Homo sapiens: one gene and its partners. The protein of the gene in region 3 purifies or fractionates together with the protein of the main gene of each other region. This does not show direct contact. Each region holds a gene or a part of one and is shown on either strand. Other genes may lie near its edges. The genes, in order: TIAL1, MPI, SRI, PPA2, FXN, TKT and ACBD3.

Region 1 (3,500 bases), on a different chromosome or scaffold from region 3:
ACTTTGGGAGGCTATGGCAGGCGGATCATGAGGTCAGGAGTTTGAGACCAGCCTGACCAACATGGTGAAACCCTGTCTCCACAAAAAATACAAAAATTAGCCGGGCATGGTGGCGCGCACCTATAATCCCAGCTACTCGGGAGGCCGAGGCAGGAGAATCGCTTGAACCTGGGAGGCAGAGGTTGCAGTGAGCCGAGATTGCACCATTGCACTCCAACCTGGGCGACAGAGTGAGACTCCATCTCAAAAAAATAAATAAAAAAGAAAGAGAGAAAGAGAGAGAGACAGAGAGAAAGAGAGAAAGAAAGAAAGAAAGAAAGAAAGAAAGAAAGAAAGAAAGAAAGAAAGAAAGAAAGAAACGAACAAGTGATCTTGAGCTTCTAAACATTATGCTCCTTGCCTAAAGGGCTAGTTAGCTCACTTCTAAGAGAAAAGAAGGATGGATAAAACTGGTTTTCACATATTGAAGCTAGCTAATAACAAAATTAAAATAGAATTATCATTTTAATATAACACATTTTAAATGATTTAAATAGTTTTAAATTTCCATTACTGTTTAAACATCAATTTCTTCAGGAAAAACTGTATTGGAATTAGTTACCTTCTATATCTAATAGTCACAAAAAAAGCCGTCACTGCTTAATAAGATCTTTATTCCACCAGGTGTGGTGGCTCACACCTGTAATCCTAACACTCTGGGAAGCCGAGGCAGGTGGATCACTTGAGGTCAGGAGTTCAAGACCAGCCTGGCCAACATGGTGAAACCCCGTCTCTACTAAAAACACAAAAAATTAGCCAGGCATGGTGGCGGGCACCTGTAATCCCAGCTACTTGGGGGAGGCTGAGGCAGGAGAATCACTTGAACCCGGGAGGTGGAGGTTGCAGTGGGCTGAGATCGCGCCATGGCACTCCAGCCTGGGCAACAAGAGCGAAACTCCATCTGAAAAAAAAAAAAAAATCTTTATTCTAAGTCAACCTATTTCCCGCCAGTTACAGATCTTGAAGAATTTCTAGAGGCATATTTAGATATATTAATTTACATTTCTAGCACTGAAAGCAAAGATGAAAACGTTAATATCTAAGTTTAGAATGTCATGAAATATTTATTTAAAAATCCAGTATTAAGGTTTCCTATTTTTCAAATTATCTCCACTAAAAGTTAAATGTTAAGCAGCAAACTAAATTTCAAAAACTAACATGAAAGGCCTTCCATAACAACACATACAATATCTTAATTTACCAGGATTAAAAGGCCATGATTCACTATATAATTTCACCTAAACTTTACCCAAATTTCAGACTGCCTTTTCTTTTACTGAGTTCTTGTACCCAAATTTCAGATTGCCTCTTCATTTACATTTGCCTTCGTGCATCATAACACTTGAGAGACGTATTGTATAGCTTTTAAAATACTGTACTATTCTATTTTAAGTACTTTTACAGTATCATAAAATAATCTGTCCCAAAGTAAATACTAACAAAAATATTTAAGACAAAGTTCAATGCCTGACCTAGTAAGATCATCTCTTGGTAGTTCATTGAAATGACATCTTTATTCGTTCCAAATTATAGCTTCTACACTTCACTTTCTTTCTGCTCTGGTTATGAAATAGTCAAGCTAAAGATCCAAGTCTTTAAATATATAATTGCTACCTAAAGAACATACACAAAATAACAGAAAAAAGATAAATGGCTCTAATTTTTGTATTGAGAGGTCAATTCAAAGAGTAAACACTTAGGAAATTCCAAAATGATTTTTAACTCAACGAAAAAATTCAGAAGAGGCATACCTTAGAGTCTATTTTGTCTTCTAAGAACAGGAACTGTAGGAACTGAAGCATTAAAAACTGAAAATGACACCTTTATCTCTAATATCAGGGTTAAAATCCAATTTGGGGCTAAAAACTTAGCAGTTTCACAGTAGGCAGAAATTCACATTGCCAAACTACTTCCTGTGTCCGACTGGGCAGAATTTTAAGTTAAGAATATCATGCCTTTCAGAAGACTAATGACACTTTTTCAACACTGAATGTGCTCTCACTCTGAAAAGAGTAGCCCTACCAAGGCTGAAATTATCAGCACTTTCACACAAAAAACTATAGCTAAATTTCCATAATAGTTTTGCTTTTGTTCTTGACAAGTCCTATACAAGAAGAGATTTTGCAATAATATCCTTCAATAGATCTCTAATTAATTGTTCAATTTGTCGGTACAGTATTTCATTTTAGGAAGGAGGCATGATGGAAGATAGCTGCAGGAGGTACAACTAAATTGACCAACTATATATATGAGATATTCTCACACACACACACACACACACACACTCACTCTCTCTCTCTTACTTTAAAGAAACAAAGAATATGATTAAGTTGAATTTGAATGAGGGGCTTGATTATAGCCACAGTATAGCCAAATCCATGGTATAGCCAGTCAATTTTGTAATAGTTTATAGAATTTTCTTCTGCTTTGTTCTTAGATGTTCAGATTATACTCTAAATCATTAGCTTATTTCCAGGAAGAAAGAATAGCCTTAAAGGAAGGGATTGTGTAACATGGTATTACACGAATTCCTAGCAATTTTGGTGCATCCGATAGATGAAGAAAATAAAATAAGCTACAATAAAACACTATTACAATTTAGTGTCATATTGTAGATTCAGATATACCATGGATCAAATCACTGCACTACAAAGATACACACAACCCAAGCCTGAAATGTGTGTCCCACAAGGCAGGTGTCAGACAGTCCAGTTCCAACACCAGTATTACACAGCATGATCTTGTTTGTTTTTTTAGATCACAAGTTACTCAATGCATAATACCCCAAAATAAATGTCAAATGAGAATGAAGAACATCAGAAAACAGACCTTTAAAGCAACTATATGACAAATAGAAATTTAGGCTCAACATCAAAGCAATTCTTGCCACTTTAAATACCATCAAATAAATTAGTAATACTGTAGGTAATGAATATTTAAAGACCTACCTAGGCTCTAAACACCATATTGTTTTCTGAAGATAGAACCATATGTCTTAGCTTGTGTGTGTCTGCAGGAAAAAAACCTCACTAGTAACACACAGGCATCTTAAGGAAACAATTTAAGATAAGCTTTGTTAAGAACACATTCTTTTAAAACATACTGGCCACTTGAAAAACCTAATCCATAGCTCACAATGTAAAATATAAGATCTCCATAAACAAAAAACCCTACTAGATATCAACGTCTAAAATCATGTTCAGTTTTCATCATGTTACTTATATCTAATAGAACCCTTTGAGAATATGTAAAACGTACACTTAGAAAAACTATGCATTATTTGTATTAAACTCTAATAAAAATCCCAATTGTTAAACATTTGCTTTTATCTCAAGATTTTACATTTGAAGGTTTTAAAAAATATATAAAAGTCAACAGACTGCACCACATGTGACAGTAATGTCTGCCTACAATCTTAGTTCAACCAGGACTTTTAAAAAAGAACTTAATACTAATTTAAT
Region 2 (4,145 bases), on a different chromosome or scaffold from region 3:
GGCCCAGTACGCATGCCTTCAGCATTCTGCCCAACTTACTCTTTAGAAAGGTTACAATCTCCTCAACTGGCCGGAAGCCACACAAGCCCTGGAAGGGGGTGAGGGCAATGGCCATCTCTGGCTTGTGGTTGGCATCGGGGTAGTGCTGCGGAGCCTGGAGGTGCAGCTTCTCTGCCAGCTCCTGTGGGGTGGCCAGGGGAAGAGGAGGATGGTGAGGGTACAGCCATTACCTAGCAGGTACACCAGTGCCACCTAGCCCCTGCTGTCCACCCTCCCCAGTTGCAGGATGGCAGTGACTACCTACCTCTGGCAAGGAGCCCAGTCAAAGCATGTTGCAGAAACTTGGGGCTCAGCCAACCCAGGGCAGGGGCAAATCAGGGGCAACCCCGGGGCAAATCAGGGAAAAGCTGGGGCAGACTTTAAGAGGCTTGGCCTGTGAATCAGGAAACCCAAATACCAGACCAAGCTCTGACACTAACAAGCTGTGTGGCTTTGGTAAATCCCTCCCTTCTCTGGGTCTTACTTTGTGTATCTAGAAATAAGGAGTTTTGGCTGGGCATGGTGGCTCACGCCTGTAATCCCAGCACTTTGGGAGGCTGAGGCGAGCGGATTACGAGGGCAGGAGTTCAAGACCAGCCTGGCCAACATGGTGAAACCCCATCTCTACTAAAAATACAAAAATTAGCTGGGTGTGGTGGCGCGTGCCTGTAGTCCCAGCTATTTGCGAGGCTGAAGCAGAAGAATTGCTTGAATTGGGAGGAGGAGGTTGCAGTGAGCCGAGATCGCGCCACTGCACTCCAGCCTGGGCGACAGAGCAAGACTCAAGTCTCAGAAAAAAAAAAAAAGGAGTTTTGATCCACAGTTGCTTAGGATGGGACTCCGGCTTGTGTAGGGAGACTCCATGGGGGTGGGGCTGAGGGTACCTGCCCTGCCTTGCAAGTTGAACTCTTCCTGAAAGCAGATGAGTAAATGGCAGATATGAATAGACATGGGTTGGATGAGGGAAGACCAGGAACAAGCCCCTTGGAATGAGCTTAGAGAAACTCCCCTGGCACAGGCCGGTGAGCTGTTTGCTTAGACTTAGTTGCTGCATGTGTCACTACCATCTGGCTTTGCAGAGCTAAATTGGGAGTTGTCAGCCTGGATTTGGCCTTGGGCAGGAGCCTGGCATGGGTGGGGTAAAAGTGGCAGTAAAAGTCACGGGAGGGCCTTAGCATAAGCCCTTCTGTACCCTGACCTCTGCACCGCACTCTGTCCTTTACCTTGTTAGGGTGTGCCTGGATGGACAGGGGTGTTTCAACTGAGAGCACTTTGAAGAGGAAGGGCAGGTTGCCATTAAAGGTGTCCTTGACCTTTGAGCCCAAGCTGTCCTGGTTCTCAGCAATCCACTGGCTTAGGGTCTTCTGTGAGATGCGGTTGTCAAGGATCTTGGCATCCCCTCGGGGGTGAGTCCCCATCCACAACTGGAAAGACAGGAAACTTGGGAGGGGAAGGGGGAAGAAACCTGCCACCCTGAGTTGGCCTGTCCCAATCCGTTATGCTGTGCTCCCCACAGGGCAACTGAGTCCTGGGAAAGGCCTCCCAGGTCTGGATACAAATGTTCATGCCATCATGGACATACAGGGAGGCAGTAGACCCAGGCCCTTGTCCAGACTCGGCCTCTAGCCATCTATGAAGACTTGGACTAGTTATTTCCCTTCTTTAGATGTATCTTCTTTGTCTGTCCAAAGAGGAGAATGACATCTGCACTGTCAAGGTAGCAGAAAAACTATGACTCTTAAATGATTCTTTCAGGGGTTAACATACATCTTCCAGTTTCAGAAGCAGAGGCGAAAGCCTTCCTATGCTTTGGCTTTTTCTCCACTAAATAGGCAGGAGAAATATTTTAGGTTAATAAAAATGCAAAAAAATAGTCAAAGTAAAAAAACTTAATTGTCAAAGAGGGCTGAATTAAAATTCACTAAGTGCTAAGAGTGGTTGGGGGAAGGAGAGTGCTGGAAATCCCAGCCTATTATGACAAAACCTCTCTTCTTTTTGATAACACTATCTAGTCCATTAGCCTGAAGAGCCAAGTGGGTCTCCTCCCTCCTTGCTGCCTCACCCTTCCCAGCTGATTCTTATGACTTGCCTCAGGCCCTTTCTCCTGACCTGCGGGTAAAGTGGGCTGAAATACAGCCCGGGGCTCACCTCTGCATAAGGCTTGTCCTCTGCGATCTGGGCCAGTGGATCACTGCTGGCCAACAGCCGCGCCACTTCGCTGTTGGAACCCATCTTCCCCCAGGCATACTGCTGCACCGCACAGGAAAGTGGGAATACTAGGGGCACAGACAGGGTCAGCTGCCACTCCACTCCTCAGGCCCCACCCTAGTGTCCCGGGAAACCAGGCAAGAGCTGGGGGTGCTCACTGGGGACAGAGTCAAATAAGGGTTTTGTAGGCTGTTGGATGAGACCCCCCTCCGCTGCAGGCCTCGATGTTCCCAACTGTCAGATGGGCAGCAGTAAGGACCTTGTGCTGATCTGAGGCAGGGTGGCGGGGAGGGAGCAGAAGGTACCTATCCCACGGCACGACGTCTAGAAGGGCCCCCTCCCCTCGGAGGTCAATCCCCATCGCAGGTGGCCACACCTCTGCCCGGCACCCACCCATCTTTCCGCGGAATGCCAGGAGCGGACTCAACCTGGCCGATAATGCCGGGAGTCGTCCCCAGGACGCGCTCCACGAACACACTCGCCGACACCCCAGCCAATGGCTCACCTCGCGGAGCGGCCATGCTCGCCCCCTGCACCAGGATTAAGCACGTATGCCTTTCCCGGCAGCCCCCGCGGCCCTCTGCGCCCAGAGCTTCACGGGAAATGTAGTTCCCTGAGCGTTCCGCCAGGCCCCGGGGCACCCGTGCCCAGAGGCTTACGGCCGCGATCTTCGGTCTCACTATTCATTCATTCTTTCCATCGCCGGGCACAGATGTACTGAAAACCTGCTAAGTACCACGGACTGTTCTAAGGGCTGGAGGATACATCAGAGAGCAAGATAGCCTTCCCTCTGCCTTTGTAGAGCGCTTACATTCTGGTGAAGGCAAGACAGACAAGTATTGTAAGCAAATCATGTAGTATGTTGAAAGGTCAAGGCCACAAAAAGTAAGGGGGCAGGTGGCAGTGGGAGGCAGTTTGCAGAATATAAAAGGCTGTCTGGGCAAGCCTCTTGAGGAGGTGAGGTTTGAGTCCAGACTTGGCGGTGAGGAAGGCAGGAGTGTTCTGCGGGGAGGAAACAGCCACAGCGGAAGCCAGAGCAAGGCGGGAATGTGGGACTGTGCCGGGCGTGTTGGGGAGGGAACTGCTAGCAAGGAGGCCACTGTGGCTGGAGCAGAGTGAGTAAGACAGGGGCAGTGAGGAGGTCAGAGAAGAGAGGAGGGGGGCAGAGCTTTGCAGGCTATTGCTATTGTGAAGACTTTGGGTTTTACTTCGAGTCTCAGCAATTACAGATTTGAGCAAAGAATTGCTGTGATGTGAGTAGGGACATACTAGTGATGATGATGGTAAATGTCACATGCAAGGCCCTTCACTGCTCTGAGCTTTGTAGAATGGGGTGAATAATGCCAGCCTGACATGCTTGTTGGAGGGTCAGATGGGATGACGTGAGACACCTATAAGGCAGTCAGCTCCCTGTGCTCCTCTGATCCTTCCCGTCCCAGGTGCTGTAGAAAGTCAGAACCCCAACTTCTACTCCAGGCTGAGCTGCTTACAAGTTGCACACACAGAAGTCAGGGGAATTACGAAGAGCTGTGCATAGGGAAGGATGGCCTTGGGCCTTGGCTCTGCAGTAATCTTGGCTATATCCTGTGGTGAAAGGCTTTGACATCCAGACCTTCTCAGTCAACAGCCTCCTAGGAGGAGGACAGTCAGTGGCTCAGGCCTGTAATCCTAGCACCTTAGGAGGCAGAGGCAGAAGGATTGCTTGAGGCTAGGAGCACAACAGTCAAAGCTCCGGGGAACCTGGAATGAGGAGTTACAGTCCTGACTCTACCCTCATCACCCCTGCAATACCCTCATTCCCACAGCCTCTACCATATGTGCCCAGGGGAAAGAGCGGGTGCCGTTTTCCCTGTAATCCTCTGCCCAGGTGTGGGTATCTATCTCACCTCCCCTGGGGT
Region 3 (3,500 bases):
AAACTGAGCTTGTCGGATCTAGCAAAGTTTAGAATTCCGAAAGCTAAAATACAGTACTATTTCAAAATGTTGATTTGAAAACAGTTTTTAAATCACTCCAGGCTGGGCACAGTGGCTCACACCTGTAATCCCAGTACTTCAGAGGCCCAGGCAGGAGGATCGCTTGAAGCCAAGAGTTTTTGGCTGCAGTAATCTATGATTGTACCACTGCACTCCAGCCTGAGCAACAGAGCAAGACCTTGTCTTTAAAATAATAATAATAATAAATTATTCCATCCTACCTGCCAATCTAGTGGATTTCTCAGATTTGGGTTTTGTGTACCTAGAACCAGTGAGACAGTTTGGGTGGCCTCCTTCACAGAGGACAAGGTAGGGTGCTGAAATGGAATCTGCCAGGTCAGGGGTCATTAACTGACATTAGGAACTGATATTTACTGTTATTTGCCAAGAGCCTACTCTGCCCTGACCTGGTGGCACTTAGGGCTTTGAGTTGCTGCCCTGCACCCCTGGTCCCTGAGTGGCCTATCCTGCACTCCTGGTCTCTGAGCTTTGGGCATGCTCCTGCTAACATAAGTGGTTGCCATGACATCCCTCAGGTCTTTCCTCTTCCACTTCATAGAATGTATTCAGGCTAAGTGGGAAGTGGCCTTTCTACTTACTGGACCTGCTGCTCCATAATTCAGCCCTTACCCTACCCCTGCCTTTTGAACACTCTGCCATGAGCTGAGAGTAATGAAATACTGCAAAGATGCTCCATCCCTGGCAGGGCACAGTGGCTCACACCTGTAATCCCAGCACTTTAGGAGACTGAGGTGGGAGGATTGCTTGAGCCCGGGAGTTCAAGACTAGCCTGGGCAACATAGTGAAACCTTGTCTCTGCAAAAAATTTAAAAATTAGCCAGGCATGGTGGCATGCACCTGTGGTCCCAGCTACTCAGGAGGCTGAGGTGGGAGGATTATACAAGCCCAGGAGGCGGAGGTTGCAGTGAGCCAAGATTGTGCCACTGCACTCCAGCCTGGGTGACAGCCTGTCTCAGAAAATCCAAAAAATTGCTGCATCCCAACTGGGGGCTTCTCATCATCCAACACATATGAAGTGGTTCCTCTTGAAATTAGATCTTGAACATGATAGATTTCCAGGGTAGAGAATAATGTCTTAGTTCAAATACATTACCAACTTCTTTGCCAGTTGTTAATTGAGACAAAACATCAAATTGAAGACCCAATTTCATGGTTAGCTGTGGATTAAAATGTTCAAACTAGAATTCACAGCTGTGAATTTATAGTGGCCTTTTTTTAAAAACTATTTGACATGGCATGTATTAGATGGCTGTCTTTGAACTCTTTGCATTTGTTTTCATTATCCTTTGTTTTATGTGACTTTAGTATCCTATTACTCTTTCCTAATTAGAGGAATTAATACAAACGAAGAACCTTTCAAGTTCCTGTTATTTAATCTAGTCCTAAACAAAATAAGCACTTTTTGGATTAGGGGATGTTATTCTTTACTGTGTAGGCAGTACATTTAAATTGTTAATTGTTACGCAATTGAGCTGGTAAACAAGGTAGGCCTGCCTATTAGCAGGGTTTATCAAAGTGCAGTGAGATCACAGCATGGCCTGTTATTCTACATCCTTTCAGTAGATGAGGTGTGGCAGATTTTAGAATCTGACTAACAAAATGGGTTGTATATTGTTAGAGAGCAGTCCTTTTAAAATTTCATTGAGAAAGCCACATTTAGTGATGGCCTTAGATCAATGCATTAAAGAGAAAGCATTTCCTGAATCATGGGGCCTATGTGATTGAATCCATTTGCCTACTCTCTGGTGGCCGTACTGAACCACAGAACCATCCTGCCTATGAGGTGTCAGTGTTTTGTAATGCAGATATTATATGGCCATTAGTCTTTTAAACCCAACTTCCAAACCAAAAAGCACAGGTCCGAATTGGATGAGCAGGTGGGATACTCCAGCTCAGAGCCTATGGGCCCTTCTTAACCAGTTTAAAAGGAAGCAGTCATACCTAGAGGTGGAGTTGGTGAGAGAAGTTGTGTTCCAGTCAGTAAGATTGTAATTCAGCTTCTCTTTTTTCCCTGAATTTAGTTGTTCGTCTGTGATAAGGTTGAGAGAAACAGCTGGAGGTAGGGCTTTCCTTCTAGGTCCATTATATTGTATGTTTCTGTGAGAAGAAAAGATGTTTGAGGCATTCTAGTAGAATGAACAGAAGAGAAGAAAAAGAGTAAAGGTAAATTACAGCAGAGATTCTTTGGAAATTATTAAAATTAACATTATTTAATTTAAATAATTTCAAAATGTTGAATTAATAATTTTAATTATAATTTATAGTTATAATTATATGTAGTTACATTTACGTAACTAATATATAATACTTATAATTTTAATTAATTTTAAATAATTATTTAAAATAGAATTAACACTAATAAAAGCTATATTATTAACAAAATTGAGAAAGAGTTTTCCTTACCAAAACTTATTGGACATCAGCGTTCTAGTTCATTGGAACTGTCTAGAATGGTGTATTTTTTGTTCATTCACTTTTGTTCACTGCCATCTCACTGCCCTTTCAGATCCTTCTCACAAAAGATGACCAGATTCCTGATCTTCCTGATCTGTCCCTCTCCTCCTCAGTCTTTACTAACAGCTTAGAAGGAATTCAAGGTCCTCTGTAATGCACCCTCCCCTGACCAAACATATTTTCTCCCACTCCTTTTGTACTCTTTGAAAGTCATATTGAGCTATTCACTTACGCTTTGCCTGTCCTAGGCCTTCTACTTCTCTCTTTGCTTATGCTGGTCCTTAGCTGTCACCAAATGCCCCCATCATTCTTGTCATTCAAGGCTTGGCTTAAATTCTTTGTCTTCTATAAAGTCTTTCTTGATTCTCTTACTGGGAAGGAGCTTCTCACTTCTCAATCCCTTCTGGTACTTTCTGGCCCCTCCATTATAATTCAGCACTCTACCATGATTAGGGTTATATGTGTATGTGACTTATCTTTTCCTTAGACTGTCAGCTAGGACGGTATGCAGTTTCACAACTGTATCTGCAAAGTTCCTGTTACCCTGAGCCCTGAACATAATAAGTACTTAACAGTGGCTGTTGAGTTAATGAATATGGAAAATTTTCTGTGTCAGAAAAATTATAGCCCTGTAGCCTTATTGGCTTTTTGATTTAAGATTATACATTAATTTTTGAGCATTAGTAAAGATTAGAAAATTTTATTCAAAAAACATTCCTTCTTAGACGATCTAAGAGGGTTGTACATATAAAGTGCAGGGCTCTACAGCTTCCTGCGTGGGGGTGAGAATTTGGTGCCATCCATCCATACCAGTGCATTTTTAGTGAATACTTCCTATGAGCTAGGTGCTGGCTCTGTAGCCACAATCAATGCCTGGGTGTTGGGAAAAGCACTGGGATAAGAGAGAGGCTGTGGAATCACATAGAATGGGCACATAACCCAGACAGGAGTCAGGAAAGTTTTCC
Region 4 (3,500 bases), on a different chromosome or scaffold from region 3:
AAATTAACAATAAACATAATAAATAAATTATACAGCAGGTTACAATTTGGCAGGTGTTATAGAAAAGGGAAATAAAGTATGAGAGGGGGAATGGGAGTAGGGTTAAAAGTTTTAAAGGATGATTGGCAGATACTATGAAGAAGATGAGTTAAAGGCAACCTAAGGAAGCCATGTGCATACCTGGAAAGGAGTGTTCCCAGGAAAGGACACAGTGAAGGTGAGGGCTTGAGACATCAGTGTGCTTTGAGCACCAGAGTGCCAGTGTGGAAGTGAAGAAGCAGAAGGCAGAAGGAGAGTTGGAGATGAGATTAAAAAGATAAATGGGACCAGGGGCTGGCTTTCATTTTAACAGGGTCATGTCTGAACATCAACCATCAAGCAGAAAAAAAAAAAAAAAAAAAATCAGGTAGAGCTATTCCATAAGCTATCCCATAAGCAATTGGCATGATTTCAGCATTCTTAAAAACATCATTCAATTTAGTTATTTTCTTTGATAAATAACTAACTTATATGCAATTTATGGTGTATTCACACACACACACACACACACACACACACACACACACACACACACAGACTCTCTCTCTCTTTTTCTCTCTCTCTCTCCAAGATCAGTCAGGTTTAAAAAAGTAGTACAGATCTCTAATTGAAAATGGCAGACAGAATGCAGGTCTATTTCCTCTTTCACTTCCATTCTAGCCACACTGGCTTCCTTTTTGATACTCACACATGCTAGGCCTATTTCCACCTCAGGACCTTTATACTTGCTGTTTCTTGTTGGACTGCTCTTCCTCTAGATGTCCACACTACTTGTTCCCTCACTTCCTTTAGATCTTTACTCAAATAACACCTTTTCACTGAGATCGTCTCCCTGTCTAAATTGCAACAATCCTAATATCCCCTAGTCCCATTCCCTGCTTAACTTTTCTTTGACATACTTACCACCACCTGACATTTTACTTGGGGTTTATTTTGTTTATTGTCTGTTTATCTGACTAAAATAAAAGCTCCAGAGAAATATCTGTCACTTTTTATCACTGCTTTACCTGCAGTACTTACAAGAACACCTTGCAAATATACAGGCCTTTAATAAATATGTACTGAATGAATGAACAGTTTGGTGAAGGCCTGGTGAGGACACAATGAGGTAAGTTAGAAACACTGAAGAAGACTTTGTGGTGGATAGACGTGAGAAAGGGGGAATGCTGCAAAATGAGGATAGAGAAGTAAGCGGAGGCCAGATCACACAGGGTTGAGTAGCAATGTTAAGAATTTTGTATTTTATCTTTTAAGCAACAGGAGACCATTAAGGTGTTCTTGTACAAGAAAAGCATCTGCAAATTTGTGTTTTAAAAATATCAATTTGGATATTGGATGGAGTATGAAACTTAGGTAGGCAATGGTGAATGCAGGGTGAATAATGAATTAAGGGACTACCACAGTCTAATTCTGTTTTATTAGTAGAAGAACTACCGTACCTGCCAGATTAATACCACTGCAGAACATCTGGAAATCCAGACACATCCAGAGGAGCACAGAAGTTTGGCAGGACTTTAAATGGAAAACTACAGAAGCTTCTTTTGTTTTTACCTCCGTTCCTCCCCTTCTCTCTTTCCTGTCAATAGGTTTGCTTTTTTATTTTTTTCATAATTTTAAATTAGTAGATGAATTAGTAGTGCCTATTATACCACATCATAACCAGCAGTTTAGTTCTTGATTGCCCCAATCAGACTAAAAACAACTTTAGGGAAAGAACCATACGATAATAAAAGTACCAGTCTTAATTATAACAATAATTGATTACTACATGTTACACACTATTCAAATGCAGTAACTCATTTAATCTCAACACAAAGATAAGAAGTAGATATTTTATGTTCTCCATTTTACAGATGAAGAAAATGAGGAAAAGTATCTTTCCCAAGGCCCAAGGTCACATTACTAGAAAGTGACAATCTCACTCCCAAACCCACATTTTCCAGTCACTTATTATGAGGCCTTGATGTCACATCTATATCCCATCTGTCTTTATATACCCAACACCTAATATCCTGCCTAGCACATAAATCCTTAATAAATGTTTAAAGAAATAAATACATGCACCTTAGTTTATTCTCTAGCTCCTCTACTTACGTCTCTGTTTTTGTCTGTCTCTAATTCATTGGCTTCTTCAGCATTACCCTCATCCACACATTTCCTACAGGCTGCATCCCCTAAGCTTTACAGAACTTTTTCAACCTTTTGCTGTTGGGTCAAACAGCATACCTATTTAAGTACCTGGAGAGTTAGAAAACCTGCTTTCATGGTTTCCACAGGCATTCTCATTCTTAGCATATCACTTTAGAAGTGCCCATTTTAACCAAGAATGTATCCATGTGGGTGATCTAACTGAATCAGAGACAGCCTGACTCTTTAGAAAACAATTTTTTTTTAAATTTTCCTGTGAATGTTTATTCTACACGGGCAGCTGCTTTTTCATGTTGGATAAAACAAGACCTCTCTTCTCAGATATTTCCCCAATACCATCTTGAAATTTCATGCAAAATATTAAAATAAATAAAAATATAAAAATTAAATTTCCAGACAGATGGTCTATGGTTTTTATAAACATAAAGGCAGATGGTTCTCTGTGTCCCCAAAACCTAGAATTTTGATTCAGCATATTCTGAGTTTTACTCACTAAATAATCTGGAAGAGTTACCTCTTCCTGGGAATGAGGAAACATGAGAGAAAACCAAAAGAGGTAAAGAAAGGAAGAAAAGCAAATAGTTGTTATTCTCCAACAGGAATGCTACCTTATCATTATTTAGCTCTTGTTTTCTCTGCTTTCTACTTAAAAATTATTAACTCATAACAGTAAATAAGTTGTGCAATTCAATTTACAATGAGTTCCAGGAAAAAGTTAATAATTTAACACATTCATCTGTTAAAGTTTAAAATATAAAATTTGTGCTATCATATATGAATGTGTATAAAAGCATAACTTGTCATGTTCAAAGGAATGACTGTAGATAAAGCCTCGCTTAAAAGTTTTTCACTGACACTTAATAGGCAAGACCAGAAAAAAAAAAATGTATTCAAAATGTCAAATGTGAACATTCCATATGCCTGACTCCAAGAACTTGAGTATAGACATATATATGGTTTAAAACAAAATTTATTGATATACTAAAACTCCATCCACGTTAATAAATTCCAAATTTACAAACCTCTCCAAATGACATGTCCTCAGAACCAATTTAAATTCAGTAGTTCACAGGATTTATAAGGCAATTTTTTCAGAAGACAGGAACATTTTACCATTGTAACAAAAATGTTACCTGAGGGAGGGTACCATAATTCCATATATAACCCTTGTAAGGGAAGATATTCGCCACATAGCGTAGCTTTCCATCCTTTACATATTGTTTAATGGGATTCATTGGCTCCTTGGTGGCAATCTAAGCAAATCACAGAAGGAAGAAAAGGAGATGGGATAAGAAATAATTAATTCTATGTCC
Region 5 (3,500 bases), on a different chromosome or scaffold from region 3:
TGTACCCCTCACCCAAGCTAGTTTCGGAGTAAATTCACTTTTTTTGGTACCAGGCCTTGCTCTTGTTAATTGGACTCTGCATCCGGTGAACAACTAACCTGCATTTTGGTTAAATAATCATGCTGAAGTTTTTTTTTTTGGTTTTTGTTTTTTGTTTTTGAGATGAAGTCTCGCTCTGTCGCCCAGGCTGGAGTGCAGTGGCACGATCTCGGCTCACTGCAACCCCCGCCTCCCGGGTTCGAGTGATTCTCGTGCCTCAGCCTCCCGCGTAGCTGGGATTACAGGCACCCGCCACCGCACCCGATTTTTTGTATTTTTAGTAGAGACGGGGTTTCACCATGTTGGCCAGGCTGGTCTTGAACTCCTGGCCTCAAGTGATCTGCCCTCCTCAGCTTCCCAAAATGCTGGATGTGAGCCACCGCACCCAGCCCTATATTAAAGTATTTTAGGAATATTTCTTAGGATTTTTTTTTTTTTACCTTCTTTTAGTGCATTACAGTGATTCTCCCTGTGTCTCTCTAAGCCCGTGTTTTCCAATAGGCTAGCCAACAAGCCACACGTAGCTATTTACATTTAAATTTAATGAGATAAAATATAAAGTCAGCTCCTCAACTGCACCACCAGTTTCGAGAATCCTGTGGCCACATGTGGCTAGTGGTGCAGACACAGCATTTCCATCACATCAGGAAGTTCTACTGGGCAGGGCTGCTGCAGGCTGTTCAGGTTACAGGGTGGTTAGCAGGAGGCTGGGAGGCATCCACAATGCTCTTAAAAGGTCACTAAGAGAGGCAACAGGAAATAGCAAGAGGCAGAATCCTGCTGAAGTCCAGAAGATTTGGCTCTGACTGCTGACTGCTGTCTGACAGATCTTATTATCATGATCTGCAGGACAGAATGTGACCTGTTGATTTTTTTTAGTCCCTAACTGCTGGACATCCAGGTGACAGGGTCTGAGTTGATTACCACCAGCTCTGCTGACCAGCTGGGGAGATGAAGGAAATAATCAGACAAGAGCCACTGGGGCACAAGAGTGGTGCAGCTGGAGTAGGGAGATGCAGGGGAGGTGACAGGGGAGGTGATGGAGCGAGGAGGGGGCGCCCTGGGTCTTGCCAAGGACCTCAGCTGGACGTCATCCTGGGAAGGCACCGAAGGGCTTTAAGAGATTGGTGATAAGGTTTACATTCTCCAAAGGTCACTGGTTGCCATGGAGAGAAGAGGCGAGAGACTGTTAGTTACTGCTCTTGAGCCAGCAGTGCCCTTAGCAAACTCAGAAAAGAGAAGGCAGAAGGCACAGGGCTGGGAAGTAAGTGGAGGAGGAAACGGGCTGGGGGACAGTGGATGGGGAGGGTGGGGCAGAGTGCAGACCTTAGAAACACATGTCTCTGAAGAAGTGAGAGGGCAGCCATGATAACCACTGTTAGAGCTATCGCACATTCTACAGTGTTCTCCATCTGCTTGACACTGCTCTCAGCCTTTATGTAAATGGACTCAGTCTTCATTACAATCCTGTGAGGGACGTACTCTTATTACAGTCCTTATTCTTGGTAGTTATGTGCTACAAAGTTGCCACAAACACTCAACGAGCAAATTATTTATAGGAGAAATACAAGGCTAGGTACCCTGTAAGCTGCTGGTCACAACATTGTTACCAATCGATCAATATATAACCTTATTTCTGTTTAAAGACACCTTATGTAATATATATAGTTGATTCATTAACACTGATCTTGGCTGGGCATGGTAGCTCACACCTGTAATCCCCGCACTTTGGGAGGCCAAGGTGGGAGGATTACTTGAGCTCAAGAGTTTGAGACCAACCTGGGCAACATAGAGAGACCTCATTTCAACTTGAAAAATAAAAAACATGAGGCCGGGCATTGTGGTTCGTGCCTATAATCTCTGCAGTTTGGGAGGCGGAGGCGGGTGGATCACCTGAGGTCAGGAGTTCAAGACTAGCCTGGCCAACATGGTGAAACCCCGCCTCTACTAAAAACACAAAAATTAGCAAGGCGTGATGACATGTGCCTGTAATCTGTGCTACTCAGGAGGCTGAGGCAGAAGAATTGCTTGAATCCGGGAGGTGGAGGTTGCAGTGAGCCAGGATCGCACCATTGCACTCCAGCCTGGGTGATGAGCAAAATTCCACCTAAAAAAATATCAAAAACATTATCTGGGTGTGGTGGGGTGTACCTGTAGTCCCAGCTACTCAGGAGGCCGAGGTGGGAGGATTGCTTGAGCCAGAGAGGTAGAGGCTGCAGTGAGCTATGATTACACCATTGCACTCCAGCAGCCTGGGCAACAGAGGGAGACCCTGTCTCAAACAACAACAACAACAAATTAATTGATCTCAGGACAACAGCACCTTAACTCATGCCTGACAAAGCTTCTCTAACACATGCATTTTCTCTGTAAGGAACATCACAGCCTCCTCGTGCTAAACTTTGCACTACACTTGGAGACAATTTTAACAGAGAAATAACCAAGAAAAAAGCATAAAAATCTGAAAAACATGGCACTAATCAGACTGTGAAAAGGACACAGTTTACACTATGACAGCTGAAATAAGAAGGCAGGGCAGCACTTTGTTGGACCTTGGCTGGGAACATGAGCCTGGAGGAGCTCACATTTTTTTGCCGCTCTGCACACATCTTTGAAACGACCCCAAAAGGCTAGGGGTACTGATTTTGGGGTAACAAATTTTAGCAAGTGAGCAAATTAACAAGTACAGACTCTTAACGAATGAGGATCAACTATAGTTGTGTTTTACAGATGAGGAAACTGACGCACCAAAGGGTAACTTGCCTACACAGATACACAGACATTAAGTGGCAGAGCTGGGATTGAACCCAAGCTGTCTGGCCCCAGAGTCTGTGCACAGTGGAAGGAATTGTTTTCCCAGGAATTAAAGCAGTGCTCAAAACATCCAAGGAAAAGTGTCTGAGAATGTGGGGCTCACCTCAGGGAAGTTTCCATCTCTCCAGGATCCTGGCCCCTCAAACCTTAGTTGTCTTAGTCGCTGATACCTTCACAATAGCTGTTTTTGTTTGTGTGTGTGTGTGTTTAATTTAATAGAGATTTGATGGTTGTTACTGGTGGGAAGGTCAAATGCAGTTACTCCTTCAAAGGCACAAGTAGAAGTCTTTCTTCGGCTGTTTTTAATCATAAAAAAGAACCGTTGCCAAATACTCCTTGCTTTATATTCTACCTGCTTTTGCCAATTTAATATTCCTCGGGCAACTGCTAAACCTTTTGGAACCTCAGTTTACTCCTCTGAAGGAAGGGATCGTGGTACTCACAACAAACCTCACAACCGTGAGCATAAAACAAGAGAACAGAAATACCCCAAGTACAGAGCCTGAGGGTATTCAGGCTCTGAACAAAAGAATGGAGAACTAGGTGAGAGGCAAACTTCCGCCTCTGCCTAAGGGAGGCTCCATTCTGTTCTGCTTGAGGGAGGCAAAGCTTGGAGGTCAAGGTCATAGGATGAGTGTTCTTCCTTT
Region 6 (3,500 bases), on a different chromosome or scaffold from region 3:
TCTGGGAGGCTGAGGTGGGTGGATCAACTGAGGTCAGGAGTTCGAGACCAACCTGGCCAACATGGTGAAACCCTGTATCTACTACAAATACAAAAATTAGCTGGGCATGGTGGCAGGCACCCGTAATCCCAGCTACTTGGGAAGCTGAGGCAGGAGAACCACTTGAACCCAGGAGGCTGAGGTTGCAGTGAATCAAGATCGTGCCATTGTACTCTAGACTCGGTGACAGAGTGAGACTCCATCTCAGGAAAAAAACAACAACAACAACAAAAAAAAGGAAACACAAACAGGGCTGCCCCGCATTGTTTGCAATTGCAAGACCTGGAACTCACTTATATGTTTATCAATAGACGAGGTTAACTGGAATATATTAATATAATGGGATACTATACAGCAGTAAGAATGAGCGAGCTACACTTCACAAATCCGGTATCAATATTCTCTCCCAAATATAGTGTGAAAAAAGCACAGTGCAGAAGGATCTGTTTAACAAAGAAGACCATATTGATTTATGTACAAGTCTTTTTGTATATACTACAAGGAAAACAGGCCAGGTGCGGTGGCTCAAGCCTGTAATCCCAGCACTTTGGGAGGCCGAGGAGGGCAGATCACCTGAGGTCATGAGTTTGAGACCAGCTTGACCAACACGGATAAACCCCATCTCTACTAAAAATACAAAATTAGCCGGGCATGTGGCACATGCCTGTAATCCCAGCTACTCGGGAGGCTGAGACAGGAGAATCGTTTGAACCCGGGAGGCGGAGGTTGAAGTGAGCCGAGATGGCGCCATTGCACTCCAGCCTGGACAACAAGAGCAAAACTCCGTCTCAAAAAAAAAAAAAAGGAAAACAATAGAATGATAACAAACAAAAAATTCAGGGTATAGTTCTTTCTCAGGGGAAGGGAAGATGAGGATGGAGGGACCCACTGTAGTTCCAAAAATCACTGTAATGTACTAGTTCTTAATCCTGGGAGCAGCTACACACAGGTTCATTATTTATGACAAGAGTACATCATTTATCTTCTTCTTTATGCATATACTTTTTTTTTTTTAAATATTCAGGTGGCTCACGCCTATAATCCCAGCACTTTGGGAGACAGAGACAGGTGGATCACCTGAGGTCAGGAGTCTGAGACCAGCTTGGCCAACAAGGTGAAACCCCGTCTCTACTAAAAATACAATAATTAGTTGGGCATGGTGGTGGGTGCCTGTAATCCCAGCTACTTGGGAGACTGAGGCAGGAGAATCGCTTGAACCTGGGAGGCAGAGGTTGCAGTGAGCTGAGATCTCACCATTGCACTCCAGCCTGGGAGACAAGAGTGAAACTCAGCCTCAAAAAAAAAAAAAAAAAAAAATTTAGAAGAGGCCAGGGGCGGTGGCTCACCTGAGGCACCTGAGGTCAGGAGTTCAAGACCGGCCTGGCCAACATGGCAAAACCCCGCCTCTACTAAAAACACAAAAATTAGCTGGGCATGGTGGTGCGGGCCACTAGTCCCAGCTACTTTACATGGGAGGCTAAGGCAGGAGAATTGCTTGAACCTGGGAGGCAGAGGCTGCAGTGAGCCGAGATCGCACCACTGCACTCCAGCCTAGGCAACAGACTCCACCTCAAAAAAAAAAAAAAAAAAAAAAAATACTCAGGAGAGAATCCCAGGATGTCAGGGTGGAAATGAACATCAGAAGCAGTTCTTGCTCTTCCTGTGCCCTGAACTACCCGAGCTGGCTTCTGCCCGGAAAGAACCTCTGGCTCCAGACCTCAGGTTGTTTCTTCAGATCTCTGCCCCATGTCACCTCTTCCAAGAAGCCCTCCCTGACCACACTGTCTAAAATAGCTCTTCTTCCCCTCACTCATGCTTGCCACCTGACATTAGGTGGTTATTGCCTGTCTACCCTACTGCAATACAAGCTCCTTGAGGACAGAGCTTTGGGCCTTTCACTGTTGTATCCACAGGCTTGAATAGTACCAGGCACAAACTGAGTGCACAAATGAATACATGATGTATCCTAGTAACCTTGGGGCTGTAACCTCTTTGAGCCTCAGTTTCCTCACTATAAAACGGAGGTAAAAGAAGAATCTGACTAAATGATGTAGTGTGTATGTACAGAACGTGGCACCATGCATAGAAATTAGCAATTGCTCAGTAAATATTAGACTATGCTTCATTCGGAGGATGGGGCCACTAAGGTTCACAGAAAGTGACTTGCCTAAAGTCACACGGCCTGCCAGCAGCAGAGCTAGGATAAGAGCAAAATGCTAAGAAAAACTGGTGAATGGATAAACAAAATGCACTATGTCCACACAACGGAATATTCAGCCGTAAAAAGAAATGAAGGGCTGGGCGTGGTGGCTCATGCCTGTTAATTCCAGCACTTTGAGAGGCCAAGGCAGGAAGAGGACTTGAGCCCAGAATTTGAGACCAGGCTCAGCAACATACCCTGTCTCTACAAATAATTTTTAAAATTAGCTGTGTATGGTGGTGAGTGCCTCCCAGCTACTTAGGAGGCTGAGCTGGGAAGACTGCTTGATCCCGGGAGGTTGAGGCTGCAGTGTGCCATGACTGTGCCATTGCACTCCAGCTTCGGGACACAGTGGAGACCCTGCCCCCCACCCCCCAAAAAAAAGGAACAAAGTACTGATTCATGTTACAACATGGATGACCCTCTAAAAATTATGCTAAGAGGCCAGACCCAAAAGAACTCATTCTGTATAATTGCATTTATATGAAATGTCTAGAAGAGTTAAATTTAGAGACAGAAAATTAGATTAGTGGTTGCCCAGGACTGGGGGTGGAAATGGGGAGTGACAGCAAATGTCCAGAAGAGATCTTTTAGGAGATGTGGTAAATTTTTGTAGTAAATCTCTGCAAATTCATTAAAATCACTTACAATGTTATGATACGCCAATTATACCTTAATCAAGCTGCTAGAAATTTGTTTTTATTTTTATTTATTTATTTATTTGAGACAAGTTCTCACTCTGTCACCCAGGCTGGAGTGCAGTGGTACAATCTTGGCTCACTGCAACCTCCGCCTCCCGGGTTCAAGCGATTCTCATGCCTCAGCCTCCCGAGTAGCTGGGGTTACAGGTGCCTGCTACCATGCCCGACTCATTTTTTTTGTATTTTTTAGTAGAGACAGGGTTTCACCATGTTGGCTGGGCTGTCTCGAACTCCTGACCTCAAATGATCCACCCACCTTGGCCTCCCAAAGTGCTGGGATTACAGGTGTGAGCTATCACACCTGGCCTAAAAATTTGTTTTTAAAAGAAAAAGGGCCTGGAGCAGTGGCTCACGCCTGTAATCCCAACACTTTGGGAGGCCAAGGCTGGCGGGAGGATCACCTGAGGTCAGGAATTCAAGACCAGCCTGGCCAACATGGTGAAACCCCATCCCTACTGAAAATGCAAAAATTAGCTGGGCAGTGGTGGCATGCACCTGTAATCCCAGCTACTTGGGAGACTGAGGCAGAAAATCGCTTGAACCTAGGATGTGGAGGTTAC
Region 7 (3,500 bases), on a different chromosome or scaffold from region 3:
ATTGCCTAGCATATACTAACTGCTTAGTAAAAGTTTTAAGACTTCCCCTCCATTAACTCAAAACATCCATAATCAATTCTCAGAAGTACCTCCTTTTCAACAACATAAGCAGCCACAAAAATACCAATAGCCAGGCATTCTGCTAAGAGTTTATATATATAATTTCTTATAATTCCTAAAACAACCCTTTGAGTACAGGAAAGCACAAAAAGTTAACAAAATTAAGTGGCAGAGCAAGGAAAACACACCCTAAAGAGTGTTGACTCCAGAGCTTACCTTTCTAAATACTGATTCACAGTAGCTCTTGTATTAGTTAACTGATAAAACATCTGCTCCTGGGCATTGGCTACACTGTCCACTTTCTGAAAACTCATCAAGCTACACACTTAGTATTTGTGTACTTTAGTGCACTGCATGTGTGATAAAGGGAAGCCTCGGGAAAATGTTAAAATCACTTACATTAAAAACATATACACACTGGGCACAGTGGCTCACGCCTGTAATTCTAGCACTTTGGGAGGCCAAGGCAGGTGGATTACCTGAGGTCAGGAGCTCGAGACCAGCCTGACTAACATGGTGAAACCCTGTCTGTACTAAAAATACAAAAATTAGCTGGGCGTAGTGGCATGTGCCTGTAATCCCAGCTACTCGGGAGGCTGAGGCAGGAGAATTGCTTGAACCCAGGAGGCAGAGGCTGCAGTGAGCTGAGATCGCGCCATTGCACTCCAGCCTCGGTGACAGAATGAGACTCCATCTCAAAAAAAAAAAAAAAAACAATGACAACAACAACACATACACATTCCTGAATCCAGTCAAAGGAAAGTTTTGGTTCAGCTCAAATTTAACATGAACTTGGTGGCTATAATTGTTTTTCTGTCTTACATCTGTCTCTCTTAGGTCTATATATCCTCCTACAGTATTACATACTTATGTCTAAAGGTAAAGATAATAAAAGGGAAAAAGAACTCTAATAGATGTTCCATAGTAACAAACTTGAAATTATCTGAGGATAGACCACTGAAGTCCAGGAGGCACACTAATTATATATGTTTCCAATGAATAAATTACAGCTGTACAGTATTTTAAAACATTAAGGAAGCCATTTATAAATGCTCTTGTAGTTGCCTATGTTTAAAGAAGACAAGAGGAAATGGAACCATTTCAGTTGTCCATTTGTTTGCTATCATTAATATAATTCTCTCCCAACATATAATACTCTACTATCAGTAACACAATTGGGTATAATCAATAGCAATGCTAGTAGAACTATTCCATAAAGAAAATGAGTCCAAGACTTACCTTCCAAATAACTGAGGGGCCTGAGGCAGGATCCTTAACTCAGAAATGGGATTAATACCCTTACAGAAGGCCTCTTGGAGGATTAAACAAAATAATGTACATACAGTTTTTGGCATAGTACCTGAGATTTAGTAAACATCTACTCAATAACTATTGACAATTATTACTCTGAAATCTTAAATTAATGTAAACAATCTACCAGCTTAATGTAATACAGTAATAAAGTATTAGAGAAGGAAAAGTCCACCCCAAAGAACTCTAAAAACCAAAATACAATTCCCCAGGTCAACTCCATCCAAGAAGTATAAAGGTCATAATAAAATGAACCCACTGGATTCCTGTGGGTCCTTAACCCATGGAGATAAGAAAACCTAGCTTAACATTGTTAAAATAGAACTGGGCAACTCTGGCCGGGCGTGGTAGCTCATGCCTGTAATCCCAGCACTTTGAGAGGCCAAGGCGGGTGAATCGCTTGAGCTCAGGAGCTAAAGACCAGCTGGGCAACAAAGCAAGACCTCTGTCTCTACAAAAAATACAAAAATTAGCCGGGCATGGTGGCTCGTGCCTGTGGTCCCAGTCACACAGGAGGATGAGGTGGGAGGATGGCTTGAGCCTGGGAGGCATAGGGGGCAGTGAGCCAAGATCGCACTACTGCCCTCTAGCCTGCATAACAAAACCAGACTGTCTAAAAAAAAAAAAAGAATTGAGCAACTTTGCTCCTCCCTTTAAAAACCTCCAGTGGTTCCTCATCTTCTAATTTACTGACAAAAAGGCCGAACTATTAATACTTACATGGCCAGGCGCGGTGGTTCACGCCTGTAATCCCAGCGCTTTGGAAGGCCGAGGCGGGGAGATCATTTGGGGTCAGTCCAAGACCAGACTGGCCAACATGGTGAAACCCCATCTCTATTAATAATACAAAAATTAGCTGGGTGTGGTGGCACAAGCCTGTAAGCTCAGCTACTCACGAGGCTGAGGCAGGAGAATCACATGAACCCAGGAGGCAGAGGTTGCAGGGAGTGGAGATCATGCCACTGCATTCCAGCCTGGGTGACATAGCAAGACTCCGTCTCAGAAAAAAAAAATGACAATGGCATGCAAGTCCTTCCAAGAATTGAACTCAGTTACCTTCCCAGCTCTCTCCATCAAACTGCTTTCTATTTTCCATTTTGCAAACAGACATGCTTTGACTTCTCATGGCTTTCATGGCTCTTGGCCTTCCCCCCTCTGGAATGGCATCTGCTCCCTCAGTCCTCCACACTGTACTGCAGTTGTCACTGGGTCCTTAACTCCTCTTTTGGACTCTAAGCAAAAGATAACGTACTATTCATTTATAGTTGTAACCTAATATAAAACTATCCATACTGAAAAGTCAATAATGTCTGAAATTTAGATGGTAAAATGCTAACTTACATTTACCCACATCTTCATCTATTTTACTTTTACTGTCATAAAAAATTAAGAATAGTTGACGTAATTGATTCAGTCACTGGCCTATTACCACCCTGACAAGGATGGAATAAGAAATAGGGCTTGTCATTTCCAACCCAAGCTATTTGCAATGGAAAAATATATCCATGCTTTCAAGATTCGTATTTATTCCACAGTGGAAGAGAAAATGTAATGTTCTTTCCTTTATTTATTTATTTTTTTGAGATGGAGTCTTGCTCTGTTGCCCAGGCTGGAGGGCAGGGACGAAATCTTGGCTCACTGCAAGCTCCGCCTTGAGGGTTCAAGTGATTCTCCTGCCTCAGCCTCCCAAGTAGCTGGGACTATAGGCGCCTGCCACCACGCCCAGCTAATTTTTTTATTTTTTTATTTTTAGTACAGATGAGGTTTCACCGTGTTAGCCAGGGTGGTCTCGATCTCCTGACCTTGTGATCCACCCGCCTCGGCCTCCCAAAGTGCTGGGATTACAGGCAAAAGCTACCACACCCGGCCGAAAATGTAATGTTATTTCTAATTCTCGTGAGATACTGGTATAAAACCATAGAATAGCGATTAAAAGTCCCAGCAAGACTGACAAAACACCATGTGTTCCACCAGAAAAATCCACACATTAAAACAAAGGTGCCGGGCACGGTGGCTCACGCCTATAATCCCAACACTTTGGGAGGCCAAGGTGGGCAGATCACCTGAGGTCGGCAGTTCGAGACCAGCATGGAGAAACCCCGTCTCTACTAGAAATACAAAAGTACCTG

What was found.
Region 1: the proteins of SRI (region 3) and TIAL1 fractionate together in Homo sapiens (co-fractionation; one large-scale study listed by BioGRID). This does not show direct contact.
Region 2: the proteins of SRI (region 3) and MPI fractionate together in Homo sapiens (co-fractionation; one large-scale study listed by BioGRID). This does not show direct contact.
Region 4: the proteins of SRI (region 3) and PPA2 fractionate together in Homo sapiens (co-fractionation; one large-scale study listed by BioGRID). This does not show direct contact.
Region 5: the proteins of SRI (region 3) and FXN fractionate together in Homo sapiens (co-fractionation; one large-scale study listed by BioGRID). This does not show direct contact.
Region 6: the proteins of SRI (region 3) and TKT fractionate together in Homo sapiens (co-fractionation; one large-scale study listed by BioGRID). This does not show direct contact.
Region 7: the proteins of SRI (region 3) and ACBD3 purify together in Homo sapiens (pull-down; one large-scale study listed by IntAct). This does not show direct contact.

Annotation. Positions count from the first base shown.
Region 1 is NC_000010.11:119,590,465-119,593,964, forward strand, and holds part of TIAL1 (nucleolysin TIAR), read right to left. Parts: intron 3,056-3,500; exon of another isoform or gene 2,988-3,055; intron 1,654-2,987; exon of another isoform or gene 1,512-1,653; intron 1-1,511. UniProt on the Homo sapiens protein: RNA-binding protein involved in alternative pre-RNA splicing and in cytoplasmic stress granules formation. Shows a preference for uridine-rich RNAs.
Region 2 is NC_000015.10:74,888,697-74,892,841, reverse strand, and holds the start of MPI (mannose-6-phosphate isomerase), read right to left. Parts: upstream 2,801-4,145; 5' UTR 2,769-2,800; coding exon 2,753-2,768; exon of another isoform or gene 2,645-2,752; coding exon of another isoform or gene 2,641-2,644; intron 2,405-2,640; exon of another isoform or gene 2,316-2,404; coding exon 2,188-2,315; intron 1,464-2,187; coding exon 1,263-1,463; intron 182-1,262; coding exon 40-181; intron 1-39. UniProt on the Homo sapiens protein: Isomerase that catalyzes the interconversion of fructose-6-P and mannose-6-P and has a critical role in the supply of D-mannose derivatives required for many eukaryotic glycosylation reactions.
Region 3 is NC_000007.14:88,213,539-88,217,038, reverse strand, and holds part of SRI (sorcin), read left to right. Parts: intron 1-281; exon of another isoform or gene 282-379; intron 380-454; exon of another isoform or gene 455-596; intron 597-2,102; exon of another isoform or gene 2,103-2,463; intron 2,464-3,500. UniProt on the Homo sapiens protein: Calcium-binding protein that modulates excitation-contraction coupling in the heart. Contributes to calcium homeostasis in the heart sarcoplasmic reticulum. Modulates the activity of RYR2 calcium channels.
Region 4 is NC_000004.12:105,443,063-105,446,562, forward strand, and holds part of PPA2 (inorganic pyrophosphatase 2, mitochondrial isoform 1 precursor), read right to left. Parts: intron 3,441-3,500; coding exon 3,321-3,440; intron 1-3,320.
Region 5 is NC_000009.12:69,042,252-69,045,751, reverse strand, and holds part of FXN (frataxin, mitochondrial isoform 1 preproprotein), read right to left. Parts: intron 1-3,500.
Region 6 is NC_000003.12:53,246,023-53,249,522, forward strand, and holds part of TKT (transketolase), read right to left. Parts: intron 1-3,500. UniProt on the Homo sapiens protein: Catalyzes the transfer of a two-carbon ketol group from a ketose donor to an aldose acceptor, via a covalent intermediate with the cofactor thiamine pyrophosphate.
Region 7 is NC_000001.11:226,180,242-226,183,741, forward strand, and holds part of ACBD3 (Golgi resident protein GCP60), read right to left. Parts: intron 1-3,500. UniProt on the Homo sapiens protein: Involved in the maintenance of Golgi structure by interacting with giantin, affecting protein transport between the endoplasmic reticulum and Golgi. Involved in hormone-induced steroid biosynthesis in testicular Leydig cells.